2 separate regions of the Homo sapiens genome follow, and region 1 is linked to region 2. The links come from fine-mapping of genetic effects on gene expression. Tissue or cell type: whole blood. Region 2 holds a variant in brackets; the other region holds the start of a gene. All regions are shown on one strand. Distances are between the middles of the regions.

Region 1 (8,173 bases), 110 kb before region 2:
CTCATCTTTATGTCTTCTGAGCCTTCCAAACTCTTCCAACCTCTACCCATTATCTTGTTCCAAAGTCAGTTCCACATTTTCAGGTATCTTTATAACAAAACCCCACTCCTGGTACCAATTTTCTGTAATAGATCATTCTTGCATTGCTATAAAGAAATACCCGAGACTGGGTAACTTATAAAGAAAAGAGGTTTAATCTGCTCACAGCTCTGCAGGCTTTATAGGAAACATGGTGCTGACATCTGCTTGGCTTCTGGGGCAGCCTCAGGAAGCTTATAATCATGGAGGAAGGCGAAGGGGAAACAGGCATGTCACACGGTGAAAGCAGGAGCAAGACAGCGAGAGTATGGGACAGGTGCCACACACTTTTAAGTGGCCAGCTCTCATGTGAACTCAGAGCAAGAGCTCACTTATCACCAAGGGTATGGCCCAAGCCATTCATGAGGGATCTACCCCCACGATCTAAACACCTCCCACCAGGCCGATCTCCAACACTGGCTTTTATAACTCAACATGAGATTTGAGCAGGGACAAATATCCAAACTCTATTATGTATTTACGCTCAGGAGTACAAAGTTTCCATAAGCACCACCATTGCCTATTCCTTAACACAATATGTTAAGTTATAAATAAACAATATGGTTTGCCACTTAACAAGAAGTAGAAAGTTCAGTAGCACATCCTTATCTCCAATGCTGCCAGACATGTAACTAAGTGAGGTAGTTATTAGCTTCCTTTTCATAAGAAAATTCAATGCTTTTATAAAGTTTTTCAGTGCCTCTAGAAAAGCGGAAGCCTTTACAAAGGAGATTTGCTTTATGTTAATTATGCAAAATCAAGGGTTATTAACAAAAGACCATGTGAATGAGAGAAGCTGAGGAATGTAACTTCATCTTACTCTAATACTCAAATGGCAGATAATTATTTCTGGACAGAGTATGGAGCCACAGAAATAAAATACTCTAACCTTGAAAATTCAGCTACTCAGGAGGCTGAGGCTGGACAATCACTTGAACCTAGGAGGCGGAGGTTTCAGTGAGCCAACATCGCGCCACTTCACTCCAGTGTGGGTTACAGAATGAGACTCCATCTCAAAAAAACAAACAACAACAACAACAATTCCTGCTCCCTTTTTGTATTATGGATAGACATATCAACTTTATGGGTGACAATTACATTGGAAAGGACAGTGAATGCGATAAGTAACACCATCAAATCCAAAAGGTCTTGATAAGCTACAACAATGGGCCAATTGTAACAGACGAAATGTGACAGATATAAGATCTTCCTCTTTTATCAAAAAATGAATTGCAAAAGTACAGAATACAGGGAAAGTTTAACAATAACATGAAATGACATAGTACTTTTCTGAAAGAAAGATTAACATGATGTCACTGTCAAAAAAATGATGCTTAGAGCATGGACTGCATCATTAGAGTAACGGTATCATTTCCACTCAGAAGGGCATGCTTTTCTAGGAGGCATATTGGAATATCTGGGAAGTGTGTACCTGAAATTGAGGAAAGCATAGTCAATATTATTATGTAATTTTAAAATTAAAAATACAGAAAAAAAGAGACAAAATGAAGCTTTACAAAATCTTCCAGGCTGGGCATCTAGGAAATAAGCAGTGATTTTTTAGTGGGTTAGGGATGGTCAGGCTTGGGAGCATGACATTTTCGTGTATAGCCAAGGGAAGTAGTTATTGAGTAATTCAGTTTTTGAGTAATTCAGCTGGAAGAAGGAGAAAAGAGTCAACTGTACTCTCATTCGTAAGACCCACCGTATATCCTCTGGTTCTGCTTTACATTTAATTCACTTGTTTCCAAATGTTTATTGAGCATCAGCTATGTGATACGTACTCAGCGCACTGAGGATAAAGCAGAGAACAAGACAGCCATACAAGACTATCAGCTGATGTCTCCCAGCTTCACAAAGCACACTTCCCAGCTCCATCTTGCTTGATTTCCTGAGCCAGTCCTGAGGCAAAAACCTTAATATTCTTATCTGGTGAAACATACATTGAGCCAACTTCCCAGATCTAGTGGCCAAGGGATAAGTTTCCTGATTCCAAATTGTGTCACCATGAAGTTTCACTGCTAGCAATCAGGACCCTGGACAGGCTAACCATCATCCTAGCAAATTAATCAAACCTGAGAAGGGGGTGTGGGAACCCTGATTTATAGCTGGTCAGTCAGAAGTGTAGGTGACAGTCAACCTAAAGTCTTGTGGAAATGAACCCTTAACTTGTGGGATTTGACTATAAGTTGAGGTAGACAGTGTCAGAATTAAGTTAAACTGTAAGACACCGAGCTGGTGTCTGCTGGAGAACTGTTTCATGTGTGGGGGATTCTCTGGTGTCAGAAGTGTTGAGCCAGTGGAGAGTAGCAAAAACAGTTTGGTTTTTCCTATCTCAAACAGGAGTGAAAACAAATTCCTATGAAACAGAAGTGAATGGAGGCATGCAGCTCAAAATAACTTCAAGAGAGACATGCAGGAGGGCTGGGACTCTCTGTTCCAGGTGTAACCTGGATGTGGGGCTGGCTGGTGCAGTGTGAGGGGCTAAAACCAAAGTCAGGGAGTTGCCCTAACTGGCACTCACAATCCACCATTTCCCTCCACCTGCAAAGGTAGCCGGGTGATGACCTGCAGGCATAATACTGGGTTCTTGCCTCTGAAGAAATTCGACTATCAGTCTAGGGATCTAGGAGGAAAACAATACAAACAAACAAGAGACCACTCCAGCTATCTAGAAAAACCAGTTCAGATCTTCACACTTGAACTCAAAAGAACAACCAAGAATCAATCACCAGAGAGGGGAAGAATCTTTCTTTTCTAGGGAAAAGACTAGATAAATACACGTAAGAATGGACCCTTGAAGAAACATAATTGAGTGAACAGAAGAGAGGTTTAAAAACTATTATCCTCGGTGATACCTGAGAAGAGAGTACATTCATGAAACAAATGCAGGGTGTTATTATAGGCCGGCAGTCCAATAGGACTGGTGTCCTTAGAAGAAGAGACACCAAGGGTGTGACTGCATAGAGAAAATGCCCTGGAGGGACACCAAGAGAAGACAGTCGTCCACGAGGCAGGGGAGAGGCCACAGGATAAATCAAATCTGCTGGCACCTTGATCTAGAACTTCCAGGATTGTGAGAAATTTCTGTTGTTTAAGCCATCCAGGCTGTGGTATATTGTTACGACAGCCCTAGCCGACTAACACAGGTACTGTATGTCTTCAGCCTACCTAGGCAAGATTCACTATTAGAAATTGATAGAATAAGAAAAATTCTGATTGCTTCAAAACAGGACTTTTGCTTTAAAAGAGTTAATGATTCAAGAAATAAATGTATTAGGAGATTACCTACTAATACGTATTGATGAAATTATGAAGTTAGAAAATCATCAGTGGATGCTAAAACTTGTGGGTAAAAATTAGATGAGGAATGGGGTGTAATCAAGTAGCACCTCCCCCCAGCATTATTTTTAATCATAAAGAAAAAAATAGTAACTTTATGGTGAAGAAACCTGGCAGACACTACCTTATTTAAGTGAACATCACCTATACTGGGAGAAACCGATGCCATCTGTACCTTGATATCATGCACTGGAAAAGACACATCGCTTTAGTGGTGTTTCTCCAAAAATTCATAACCTGAAAGGGAACATCAAACTTACTTTGAAGGATATTCCACACAATACCTGGTCTGTATTCTTAAATAATGTCTAGTTCAATAAACATAAAAGCCAAGGACGGTTCCAGATCAAAGAAGACTAATGGAGGAATAACTCTTTCATCTGGAATGTTTTTTAAGCAAGAAATACCTGCTTTCGAATTTAAGAGTGCAGATCCTTTTTTTATCCAATTGGTTCGGAGATATAATTACATTATTTTACCACATCTCCTTAAGGCTTTGATCCCTGCTACAATCTACAATATATAAATGCATATGTGTGGCATCCGTCTTATCATCAATTTAGGTGACCAGTAGAAGAAAAGTGCCTGGTGCCAATTTTTATTCCATAGTATAAAATAGTCTCTCAGGACAGGGTTTTTGGTGAGAGAAGCACAGGATGTTGCTGGGTGACTGAGACTGGGTCAGGAAATAGGGAGGCAGAGGGCAACAGTTTCTCTAGAATTTAAAATTTGGTTGCTTTTGGAAGAGAAAGCAAGAGATTCCTGGAAGCCAGAACGTCATGTTTCACAAATGTAAAAGTCCTAGTTGGGAAAGACACATCGCTTTAGTGGTGTTTTCAAATGACTTTTAAAATAGTAGGGTTTTACTTGTAGGTTCTAGCTACAAGTAAAAAGGCTAAAAGCCAGCCTTAGAAACCTGTCAAAAAAGATTTCCAGCAGGGCGCTGGGGAAACGCAGACCGCGCCGGAATCCCCGCCTGGAGAAGCTCTTAATAGGGCGGGAAACTGCGTGCCCCACAAGGTCCCTCAGAGGCACATTGTGGAGACGGGCTCAGGGTAGCAACTTCTGGCGAGTGGAGCGGCTATTACACAAGCGAAACATTCGGAAGCAATTTACTTCCAGCTTTCGCAACACCCACCCTGAGCCACCACCCTCCCTTACACAGTCACGCCACAAACTTCCCCACTTCCGCCCACAGCCCTCTGGGCTTCGACCCATCAACTGAGCTTGCGCCAAGTCTACTGCGCACGCGCCAACTTCGGCCCAATCAGCGTCCCAAACCGTGGGGTGGACGCCACCGGGATAAACTATCCTCAGCGTGGGGCGGGGTCTCGAAGCCGAATAACGAACGTGATTAGCCAGCCTCTTCCACAGACTTTTAAGGGCGGAGCCTGGCCCTGGAGACACGTCTGGAGAGCTGTTCTCCTAATATGGGTAGGGTCGGGCGTGGAGCTGGCAGCGGCGCTGTGTGCGCCTGCGCGGGGCGCCGAGACAGGGCGTGTTCGCTGTTCAGTGCCGGTGTTGCAGGGAGTGAGGGCAGCTGGAGTGCGTTCTGCCGAAGCTTGTGGTTGCACGCCCATCGTCTTAGGGGCTACCTTCCGTGGTGAGTGTGTGCGGTGTTGCACTTGGGGTTGCTTCTCGCTGCGTGGCCGCAGCGGGGCTGAACCCTTCCCACTCCATCCCCTCCCCGCACCCGGACCAGCCCCTGGGACGCCCTCGGACGCCCACCCGCTCCAACCCTGGGGAAGCCTCAGAGTGGCAGCGAAGGCCTCTTGCCTTTCCGCCTCTGCGCTTGCTGTCATCGCCCACGTGCTTTGTTGTTGTTCGGTGCAGACCATGTCCAAGTCTCTGAAGAAGTTGGTGGAGGAGAGCCGGGAGAAGAACCAGCCCGAGGTGGACATGAGTGACCGGGGCATCTCCAACATGCTGGATGTCAACGGCCTCTGTGAGTTCTCGGGCAGGACTCTCCCGTGGATGAGCTGGAAGGCTTTCTAAGTTTGCCAATTCACTGCTGGTCCTGCTGTGAGCGATTGTACTGGTTTAGACCCCAGCCCCTGCTTGTAAACCTCACTTGTCAGGGGCTTCGCGCAGAGGGTTTGCAGTAGGATTTGTTCTGTTCCACCTGGAAAACGATCCTGAGAGTCCACGATGAGAATCACACAGACAGCTGTGCCTCATCGGTTGTCTCTGCTGTATGGCATTGAGGTGGATTTTCCACAGTTTGCTTAATAGTCACTTTAATTATAAATTGAAAATTAATTTTGAGTCCTTCTTCCTGTCTCCTAATACAGTCTTTGTCCATGAACAAATGACACAGAAAAGTTCCATGGTTAATAAGCATTCTTGTGCCTGGAGCGTTTTAAGCATTTCTTGAATCTTTACATTCTTCTGAGTATTTATTCTCCGAACTTGGTTCAGGCTTTTGTCACCTCCTCATGCTGTGGTGAAATCCTCCTAACTTGCCCTCTTGCCTTCAGTTTCACTGCCCAGTTTAATCACTGGGTCACTTTCAGTGTCATTTTCCTGTAACCCCTGTCTATGGTGTTACCCTCTCCCTTAAAACCAGGGATTGCAGATTCACATGCCTCCAAGTGAGGGCGGTCAGGGGCGGTTATGAACTAGGTGATAGGTGTCCCACTTGAAGGGGCCAGCTGCTGCACCTGCTACTCAGACACATGTCACCATAGGAATGTTGGCCCAATGTGCCAGATTATTTTCTTAAAGGAACCAAGATTCTATATTTTTATGTGAAATTTGCTAATTTTTAGATGTTGGCTACTAATTCTAATATTTGAAAAACCTGTGATAAGTGAGCTAAAGCAGTTCTTCAGGCTGACGTGGCTTTGGTTTAAACCCTCTCCGCACTTCTCCAGGTTGTCCATTATCGACGGTAATGCTCCAGGTTTCTTGGCGTGATGTACAAGGCCTTTCTGAATCTGAACACAACCTTACCCTTCCATGCAGCTGGCATTCCAGCCATTCTGAACCTGTTGCCCTTCCTGGACCAGAGCCTACTCGTTCAGATCTTGGTGCCTTTACAAATTCTGTTTTCCCTCTTTCTCAGTCGTTTGCACCTGAAATCCTTTTACTTCTAAGAGTCAGCTTAGACATCACCACCTGTGTAAAACCTTATCCGTCTGCACCAGGCTAACATATCCCTTCCCTCCTCTGTGAAGGTGGTCGTGTGTATTGCTTTGTGACTCCTCTCACATAGGATTGTACTGATTTTTTTCTTTTTTAATCTAGAAGTCTCTCTTCTCTGCTGGGACATTGGGAAGACAAAAGCTGTGCAATATTCATGCTTGCATTTTTTTAATAATAGTGCCTGGAGCACAGTAGATGCTCAAAAATAGTTGAGGAATGAAGAAAATGAAAGAATGATGGATTAGGCCTGTGAGTTTGGGATATCAACTCCAGGATGTGACAAGAGAGAAGAAGGGAGATGTTCAGGAGACCCTGAAAGGCGATGGATAGCCATTTAGGCATGGAGAGAACTGCAGAGTCAGGTTTACTGTGAATTCACGGTTTTCACGGTTCGAAAACCTGCCTGGGACAGAGGTTGGAGTTGATGCTATTGATATGTCTTGGCAGAAGGAAAAGGGAGGAAACGTAGATTTGCGTTTCGTAGGCTTTATGAAAATACGTGCCATTAAACTTAGGTTGTGTACTAGTTAGCCTCTCAGGCTTGGTGTGTGTTGGTCTCTTGCATTCCGTAAGGGTCCTTGCTGTCAGCAACTGAGCAGATGCCTCTGGAATTGGATATCTGAGTTTGCCCCTTGCTGCGCCTGCCCGGCTCTGCCATGACCATGGTCATTATTGGGGGCACTGTTGATACAGAGGAGAAAGAGAAGGGGATAGGGAAGATGATGCATAGCGGGAACCTTGGCCCCATGGCCTTCCTCCCTACAGCACTCATTCTCACCAGGTAGAAGAGAGGCTGCTTTCAGCAGAGGAGCTTTGTACCCTTCGGCTTTTGAAGAGGAGACTTTATGTAATATTTATAAATGGGGAGAATGGCTTAGCTATTTCGGTTCAGCTCCGTTATCTCTTTGAAGCCTTGGCTTTTATTAAGGAAGAAAAGCCACTTGCTTCCTGAAATATATTTCCGGTATAACATTGGGTGGTGAAAAGCGAGATCATTCTTAAATTTTCCTAAAGAAGTAGCTAACAACGGATAATAGTACTTTTTGGGAAGTTGGGTGGAAGTGAATTTGGAGATTTGCAGATTCCATCTCCTCTGGCTTCTGTAGCATTGAGCCAAGGCTGCTCTCTGCAAACTCCCTGACCTCAGGACTTCTCGGAGCCTAGGGGGTTCCAGGATGCTCTTCGAAGCCTCCACCAGGGCTCACTTCTCAGCAGTGCACACACACTGACACAGTGCTTAATATATACAAGTATTAAAATACTTCACATGGCTACATTAATTATAAGTGTAAGAATTTTTTTTTCTTTTTTTTTTTTTTTTTCCTGAAAACAGGGTCTCGCTCTGTCACCCAGGCTGGAATGCAGTGGTGCAGTCACAGCTCCCTGGGGCCTCACCCTCCCAGGCTCAAGCAATCCTCCCACCTCAGCCTCCCGAGTAGCTGGGACTATAGGTACACGCCACCACGCCTGGCTAATGGTTTTATTTTTTATTTCTTTGTAGAGATGGGGTCTTGCTATGCTGCCCAGGCTGGCCTCAAACTCCTGGGCTCAAGGAGTGCCCCCATCTTGGCCTCCTAAAGTGCTGGCATTACACATGTGAGCTACCACA
Region 2 (8,194 bases):
TGAGATAGTTTCAGTTTCCATAATCTCTGTGTGATGATTTTCATCAAGAATTCCGACTAAGGAGATTTTATTCTTTTAAGAAGATTTGTTCAACATATACTTACATGAGATTTTGTTCTTTTTAAAGACTGTGTAAATAAATTATCTGATTAAGAAAAATTTTTCTACTTTGTTTTGACTCTTGAATAGGGAAATGCTTGCCTATATTTAAATGCAACCTGCTAAAAATACTTGTTCTGACCTATTAGTGAAGTATATCACACTATCTAAAGCAATCTGTAGATTTAATGCACTCGCTATGAAAATCTCGCTGATGTTTTTTGCAGAAATAGAAAATCCCACCCTAAAGTTCATATGGAATTGCAACAGACCTCAAGTAGTCAAAACAACCTTGAGAAAGAACAAAACTGAAGGATTTAACAATTCCTGATTTCAAACTTGCTACAGTTCCAGTAGTCAAAACAGTGTGGTACTGGCCTAAAGGCAGATATATTGACCAATGGAATAGAATAGAGACCCCAGAAATAAATCCTTGCCTAAATGGTCAAGTGATTTTTTGACAAGTGTGCCCAAACCACTCAATGGGGAAAAGACAGTCTTGTTAAGAAATGATGAAGTGAAAAACTACATAGGCATATGCAAAAGAATGAAGTTGGACCCTTGCCTAATAACATATAGAAGAATTAACTCAAAATGAATAAAAAACCTAAATGTAAGAACTACAACTATAAAAATTTTAGGGGAAATTGTAGGATAAAATCTTCAAGACGTTGGACTTTAAGATGACTTCTTGGCTATGACACCAAAGGCACAGACAACAAAAGAAAAAATAGGCAAATTGGACTTCATGAAAATTTAAGAATTTTGTGCATCAAAAGACAACATCAACACAATGAAAAGGCAACCCAGAGCAATATGGCCAATGAGAGTTGCCTAGTGCTCATCCCTCCCCCAAAAGGGGATCTAAACAACAAGTAAACAACTATATTTCAACTAGAGTGACGAGGAAGTATGCTGGACCGCACTAGGGGAGCAGCAAACTTCCTGTGGTGCATGGAAGGCCAGGACAGCACCATGGACAGGTGAGCGAGGCATCCTGCCTCTGCCACAGTCTCCCCCAGTGGAGACTTGGCAGTCATGGGGTGCTGTTTATGGGGAAATGTATGCTGGTGATTCCCAGCAGTCCCCATTGCCACCAGAAATGCTAGCAGTCTTTGATATAGGAGTCCCCTAAACTTCACAGGCCCCCAATCCAGTTTGGAGAGTAGCCGGGAGCTCACACAGATGCAATGCCTCAGTGTCCACATTGAGGACCCGCAACCTAAGCAGCTTCAACTCTGTCCCATCTTGAACCTTTCCCACTGCTAGAGTGCATCCTGCCCTGCGCACCAGTAGCAATTGACTCTTTTCATCCTGGAGGCCTAGCTGTCCTTATACCACATTCACACAGGTACCTGCAGCACTATGACCATAGCTACCCAAAGCATAGGTCACATGGAATGACTGAGACCCCAGTGTTCAAACCCAAGTGACACACCACATCCCCCCACCCCCCAGGGAACAGGCAGATCTGTACGGTGCTGAAGTCACTGAACAGTCAGCCAATTACCTCTCCTGCACGTACCTGCACCATAGCCACCTGTCCCACCAAGCGCGGTGCATCCATAGCTGGTCCAACTGTTGGTCCTGTGGCAGCCTCGTTCCCGCATACAGACACCCAAAGAGCAGCTGAATGCTGCTATTCTATGTCTAGCCTGACAGCTGGTCCAGTAGCAGCCCTCCCTCCCAAATAACTGCAAGGCTGCCCAACCCCATTTCACACTGGCATCCAGCCCAAGAGCTGGGCCAGTGGTGGACCTGCTCCTCTAGACAGACTCCTACAGGGCCACCTGACACAGCTGCACCTATGTGCAGCTGGCACAGCATCAGACCAGTAGACTCTTCATCCATCCTCTTGAAGAGACAGCCACGTAGCTGCTCAGCTAGCCACACCCATATGCACCTAAGCTCAGCCCAACAGCCAGACTAGTGGTGGCCCCACCTCCCTGAAAAGCCTGTTGGAGAGCCTTTTCGCCCTCCACACCCATACATATTCAGCCCAACAGCCAGCCCAACACCCCTACTCCCAGCAAAACCACACACTACGACCACCACAAATACCTACAGCATAGGCCATTGAGGCAATTGCAGACATTGCTGATGAAGATTGCAGCTGAAAAAACTACATGTAGACCATGCTACTGAGTCCACCCAGAACTAAAGCTAACTCACCACACTCAAATGACACCTTGGGACCTATCTACAGGAAGAATTATCTCCTAATGAAAGTTACTTCATAAACCTGGAAAGGGTCACTATTCCACTAGATGTTCAGATATCAGCATAGGGACACAAGCAATGTGAAAAAGCAAGGAAATGTGATACCTGCAAAGGAATACAATAAGTCTTTAGTAAAAGACCCCAAAGAAAAGGACATTTATGAAATGCCTGAAAATAAGATAATCTTAAGGAAACTCATGGAGATACAAGAGAATACAGCAAATAATTCAGTGAGATCAGGAAAACAATTCATCATCCGAATGAGAAATGCAACAAAGATAAGTGTCATAAAGAACCAAACAGAAATCTTGGAGCTGAGGAATTATGAATGAAATAAAAAGTGCAAGTGAAAGCTTCAACAACAGACTAGATCAGGCAGAGTAATTTCTGAACTTGAAGACAGGCCTCTTGAATTATCCCAGTCAGAGGGAAAAAAAAATAAGAATTTTAATTGAAGAAAGCCTGTGGGACTCATGCGATACCATTAAATGAACAAATGTGTGCATTATAGGAACTTCGTAGGGAGAAGAGTTGGAGAAAGACACAGAAAACCTATGTAATGAAATAATAGATGAAAACTTCCCTAGTCTTGGCAGAAATACGGACATAGGAATTCAGCAAGTTCAGAGGTCCCCAGTTAGATTCAGTCCTCTCTGAGGCACATTATAATCATACTCTCAAAAGTTAAAGACAGAATTTTAAAAGCCACAAGAAAACAGTGTCACATCACACACAAGGGAATGTCCATTAGACTACTAGTAGATTTCTCAGCAGAAACCTTGCAGGTTAGAAGAGAATGGGATGATATATTCAAAGTGCTGAAAGAAGGGGGGCTTGTGGGGAGGAGGAACTGTCAGCCAAGAATATTATATCCAACAAAGTTATCCTTCAGAAATGAAGGAGAAATAAGACCTTTTCAGACAAGCAAAGGCTGAGAGAATTTGTGACCAGTAGGTTGGCCTTATAAGGAATGCTTAAGGGAGTGCTACCACTGGAAAAGAAAGGACAATAATTATCATGAAAACATGTGAAGGTGTAAAACTCACTAGTAGAGGTAAATTCATAAAATACTCTAGTGATTTAATGGTCCTATGTAAATCTCTCAATCCTCTAGTATGAAGACTTAGAAGTCAAAAAGGTCAAAAACAACAACAACCACACTTAGTGGCTACAAATATATAATAAATAAGTAGATTAAGGCAACAAAAATATTAATTGTGTATGGGGTTAAGTCTAGAATATTTTCATGCAACCAGATTTAAATTGCTATCAGGTTGATGTAGTCTATTGTAACTACAAGACTCTTATGTTAGCCCCATGGTAACCACAAAGAAAGAAATTAC[G/T]ACAGAATAATAAACAGTAAAGAGAAAGAAAACAAAACTTCGCAGCACAGAAAACCACCAAACCGCGAAGGAAAATAACATGAGTAAAAGAAAGGGGAAAAGGATCTACAAAACAAGCAGAAAACAACAATATGGCAGGAATAAATTTTTATTGATATGACCTTGAATATAAATGGATTAAAGTCTCAAATTTAAAAACACAGAGTGGTCGAACAGGTTTTAAAAATAAGACCCAACTATCTGCTGGCTACAAGAGGCTCACATCATCATTAAAGACAAACATAAACTGAAAGTGAAGGAATGGAAAAACATATTCCATACAAACAGAAACCAAAAGTGAGCAGGAGTAGCTATAATTGTATCAGATAAGACAGATTTTAAGTCAAAAACTGGAAAAAGAAAAAAGGTCATTATGTCATGATTAAAGGATAAATTCAATAAGAGAATATTGTAACAAATACATATGCACTCAACCCTGAAACATACAGATGTACAAAACAAACATGATTGCACATAAAGGTACAGATCAACTGCAATACAATTATAAAAGGGAAGTTTGGCAAAGAAATATCAGACTAAAACTACATCAAAGACCTAATGCACCTAGCAGATATTTACAGAACATTTTAACAGCTGCAGAATACAAATTCTTCTCAATTACACATGAAACATTCTCCAGGATAGAGCACATGCTAGGCCACAAAACAAATCTTAACAGATTTGAGATAGAGATCCTATCAAGTATCTTTTCTAACCACAGTGGTATGAAACTAGAAAACAACAACATGAGCAACTTTGGATACTTTGAAATACGTGGAAATTAAACAACATGGCCCTCAACAACCAGTGGGTCAATTAAATTAACAGAGAAATGAAAAATTGCTTTGAGACAAACAAGAATGCAAACACATCTTACCAAAACCTGTGAGACACAGCGAGAGAGCAGTTCTAACAGGGAATTTTATAGCAATACACAGCTACATTAGAAAAGAAGAGAGATTTTTAATGAACAACCTAATGACGTACCACAAGGAACTAGAAAAACAAGAACAAACTGAACCCAAAATTGATAGAAGGAAAGGTAGAATAAGGCTCAGAGAAGAAATAAAGACAAATTAACATTCAAAAGATCAAGAAAACGAAGAGTTGGTTTTTTTGAAAAGATAAGCAAAATCAACAAACTTTAAGCTAGACTAAAAAAAACAAGACTCAAGTAAAATCAGAGATGGAAAAGGAGATGTTACAACTGATACTACAGAAATACAGAAAATTATAGAGAATATTATGAGCTGCTATATGCCAACAAATTTGATAATATGGAAGAAATAGATAAGTTCTTGGACATATACAAACTACTGAGATTCAATTATAAAGAAATTAAAGATCTGAACAGACTAATAACTAGTGAGACAATTAGTTATAAAAAGTCTTTCCTGGATAGAGAAAATGTGGCACATATACACCATGTGGAATACTGTGCAGCCATAAAAAAGAAAGACTTTATGTCCTTTGCAGGAACATGGATGAAGCTGGAAACCATCATTTTCAGCAAACTAACACAGGAACAGAAAATCAAACATTGCATGTTCTCACTGATAAGTGGGAGTTGAACAATGAGAACACATGGACACACGGAGGGGAGCATTACACACTGGGACCTGTCGGCGGGTAGGGGGTAAGAGGAGGGATAGCATTGGAGAAATTCCTAATGTAGATGATGGGTTGATGGGTTCAGCAAACCACCATGACACATGTATACCTATGTAACAAACCTGCACTTTCTGCACATATATCCCAGAACTTAAAGTATAATAAAAAATAAAAAAATTTAAAAAAAATGTTTCATCAAAGAAAAGCTTAGGACCTGATGGCTTCACTACTGAATTCTACAAAACATTTGAAGAAGAACTAATAACAGTTCTCCTCAAACTATTCCAGAAAATTGATAAGTGGGGAGTATTTGTAAAATTTTATGAGGCCAGCATTACCCTGATCCTGAAACCAGACAACGATACAACAACAACAGCAAAACTACAGGTAAGTATCTGTAATGTGAACATAGATGCAGAAATTCTTAATAAGATATTAACAAACTGAATCCAGCAGCACATTAAAAAGATCATTCACTGTGATCAAGTATTACTCATACCAGTGTTGCAAGGGTAGTTTAACGTATGCAAGTCAATAAGTGTAATACATCACATTAACAAAAAGAGACAAAAACAATATGATCATTTCAGTAGATGCAGAAAAAGCATTTGACATCCTTCAACATTCTTTCATAAAAACTCAACAAATTAGTTATGGAAGGTATGTACCTTAACACAGTAAATGTCATGTATGAAAAACCCACAGCTGACATCATACTGAATGAGGAAAAGCTTTCTTTTAATATATGGAACAAGACAAGGATGCCAACTTCTGCTACTTCTGTTCAACATAGTACTGGAAGTCCTAGCCTAAGCCATTAGGGAAGAGAAAGATATAAAAGGCATCCAAATTGGAAAAGAGGAAGTCAGATTGTCCTGTTTGCAGACATGATCTTACATATAGAAAACCGAATGGGAGAAAATTTTGGCAACCTTCTCATCTGACAAAGGGCTAATATCCAGAATCTACAATGAACTCAAACAAATTTACAAGAAAAAAACAACCCCATCAAAAAGTGGGCAAAGGATATGAACAGACACTTCTCAAAAGAAGACATTTATGCAGCCAAAAGACACATGAAAAAATGCTCATCATCACTGGCCATCAGAGAAATGCAAATCAAAACCACAATGAGATACCATCTCACACCAGTTAGAATGGCAATCGTTAAAAAGTCAGGAAACAACAGGTGCTGGAGAGGATGTGGAAAAATAGGAACACTTTTATACTGTTGGTGGGACTGTAAACTAGTTCAACTATTGTGGAAGTCAGTGTGGGGATTCCTCAGGGATCTAGAACTAGAAATACCATTTGACCCAGCCATCCCATTGCTGGGTATATACCCAAAGGACTATAAATCATGCTGCTATAAAGACACATGCACACGTATGTTTATTGCGGCACTATTCACAATAGCAAAGACTTGGAACCAACCGAAATGTCCAACAATGATAGACTGGATTAAGAAAATGTGGCACATATACACCATGGAATAGTATGCAGCCATAAAAAATGATGAGTTCATGTCCTTTGTAGGTACATGGATGAAATTGGAAATCATCATTCTCAGTAAACTATCGCAAGGACAAAAAACCAAACACCTCATGTTCTCACTCATAGATGGGAATTGAACAATGAGAACACATGGACACGGGAAGGGGAACATCACACTCTGGGGCCTGTTGTGGGGTGGGGGAAGGGGGGAGGGATAGCATTAGGAGATACATCTAATGCTAAATGACGAGTTAATGGGTGTAACACACCAGCATGGCACATGTATACATATGTAACCTGCACATTGTGCACATGTACCCTAAAACTTAAAGTATAATTAAAAAAAAAAAACCAAAGGACTCTACTAAAGAACTGGTAGAACTAATAAATGAATTCAGTAGTTATGGGATACAAAATCAGCATACAAGAATCAGTAGTCTTTCTATATATTAACCATTATTAATATTGGTTCATTAACTATCTGAAAAAGAAATCAAGAAAACAGCTCCATTTACGATAGCTTAAAAAAAAAAAGATAATAGAAACAAAACCAAATTGAAAGCTCTCTATATTGAAACTCTAAAACTTTAACAAAAGAAATTGAAGAGGACACAAATAAATGGCAAGCTACTTTGTCTTCATGGTTTGGAAGAATTAATATAGTTAAGATGGCCATATTACCTAAAATAATCTACAGATTTGATGCAATTCCTATCAAAATACTAATGACATTCTTTACACAGATAGAAAAAAAAATCCTAAAATTCATATGGAACCACAAAAGGACCCAAATAGCCAAAGCAACCCTGAGCAAAAAGAAAAACCTGCAGGTATCACACCAACCAAGTTCAAAATGTACAGTTGACTCCTAAAGAACTTAGATTTAAACTGTGCAGGCTCACTTTTATGTAGATTTTCTTCTGCTTCTGCCACCCCTGAAACAGCAAGACAAATCCCTCAACAGGAAGCCTACTCACCAGGAAGACAATGAGGATGAAGACCTTTATAATACTCCACATCCACTTAATAAATAATAAATATATTTACTCTTCCTTATGTTTTTCTTAATGACATTTTCTCTAGCTTTATTGTAAGAATATAGTATATAATGTATGTAACAGACAAAATATGTTAATTGACTATGTTATCCGTAAGGTTTCTGATCAATAGTAGGCTATTAATAGTTTTTTGGGGGAAGTCAAAAGTTGTTCAAGGGTCACTGCTACTACAAAGTTATGGGAACCTAAACATGTTACTGGCTTTAAAAACAGACGCATAAACCAGTGGAACAGAATAGAGAGCCGACAAATAAATTTACATACCTATAGCCAACTAATTTTTCATAATGGTGGCAAGAACACACATTAAGGAAAAGACAAATCTCTTTA

Evidence for each region. PIP is the estimated chance that this variant, and not a neighbour inherited with it, causes the effect.
Region 1: RSU1 starts here. The variant in region 2 is fine-mapped to the expression of RSU1 in whole blood (TOPMed, PIP 0.97).

The regions. Positions count from the first base shown.
Region 1 is chr10:16,814,165-16,822,337 of GRCh38, reverse strand. It overlaps RSU1 (Ras suppressor protein 1), which reads left to right and starts at 4,914. Exons shown (of 9, transcript NM_012425.4): 1 at 4,914-5,023; 2 at 5,254-5,365. The coding sequence starts at 5,257. LOC105376435 (a long non-coding RNA gene) reads right to left here and starts at 4,639. Exons shown (of 3, transcript XR_930708.3): 1 at 4,582-4,639; 2 at 3,596-3,657; 3 at 1,081-1,510. RefSeq lists enhancers at 4,296-4,345, 4,376-4,465, 4,496-4,605, 5,276-5,435.
Region 2 is chr10:16,707,962-16,716,155 of GRCh38, reverse strand. All of the region lies in intron 7 of RSU1 (Ras suppressor protein 1), which reads left to right. It overlaps LOC124902384 (a long non-coding RNA gene), which reads left to right. Exons shown (of 2, transcript XR_007062072.1): 2 at 1-159. Among named protein-coding and RNA genes, the nearest start is that of RSU1, 110 kb to the left of the region's middle. The variant G/T (reference allele first, on the strand shown) is at 3,663.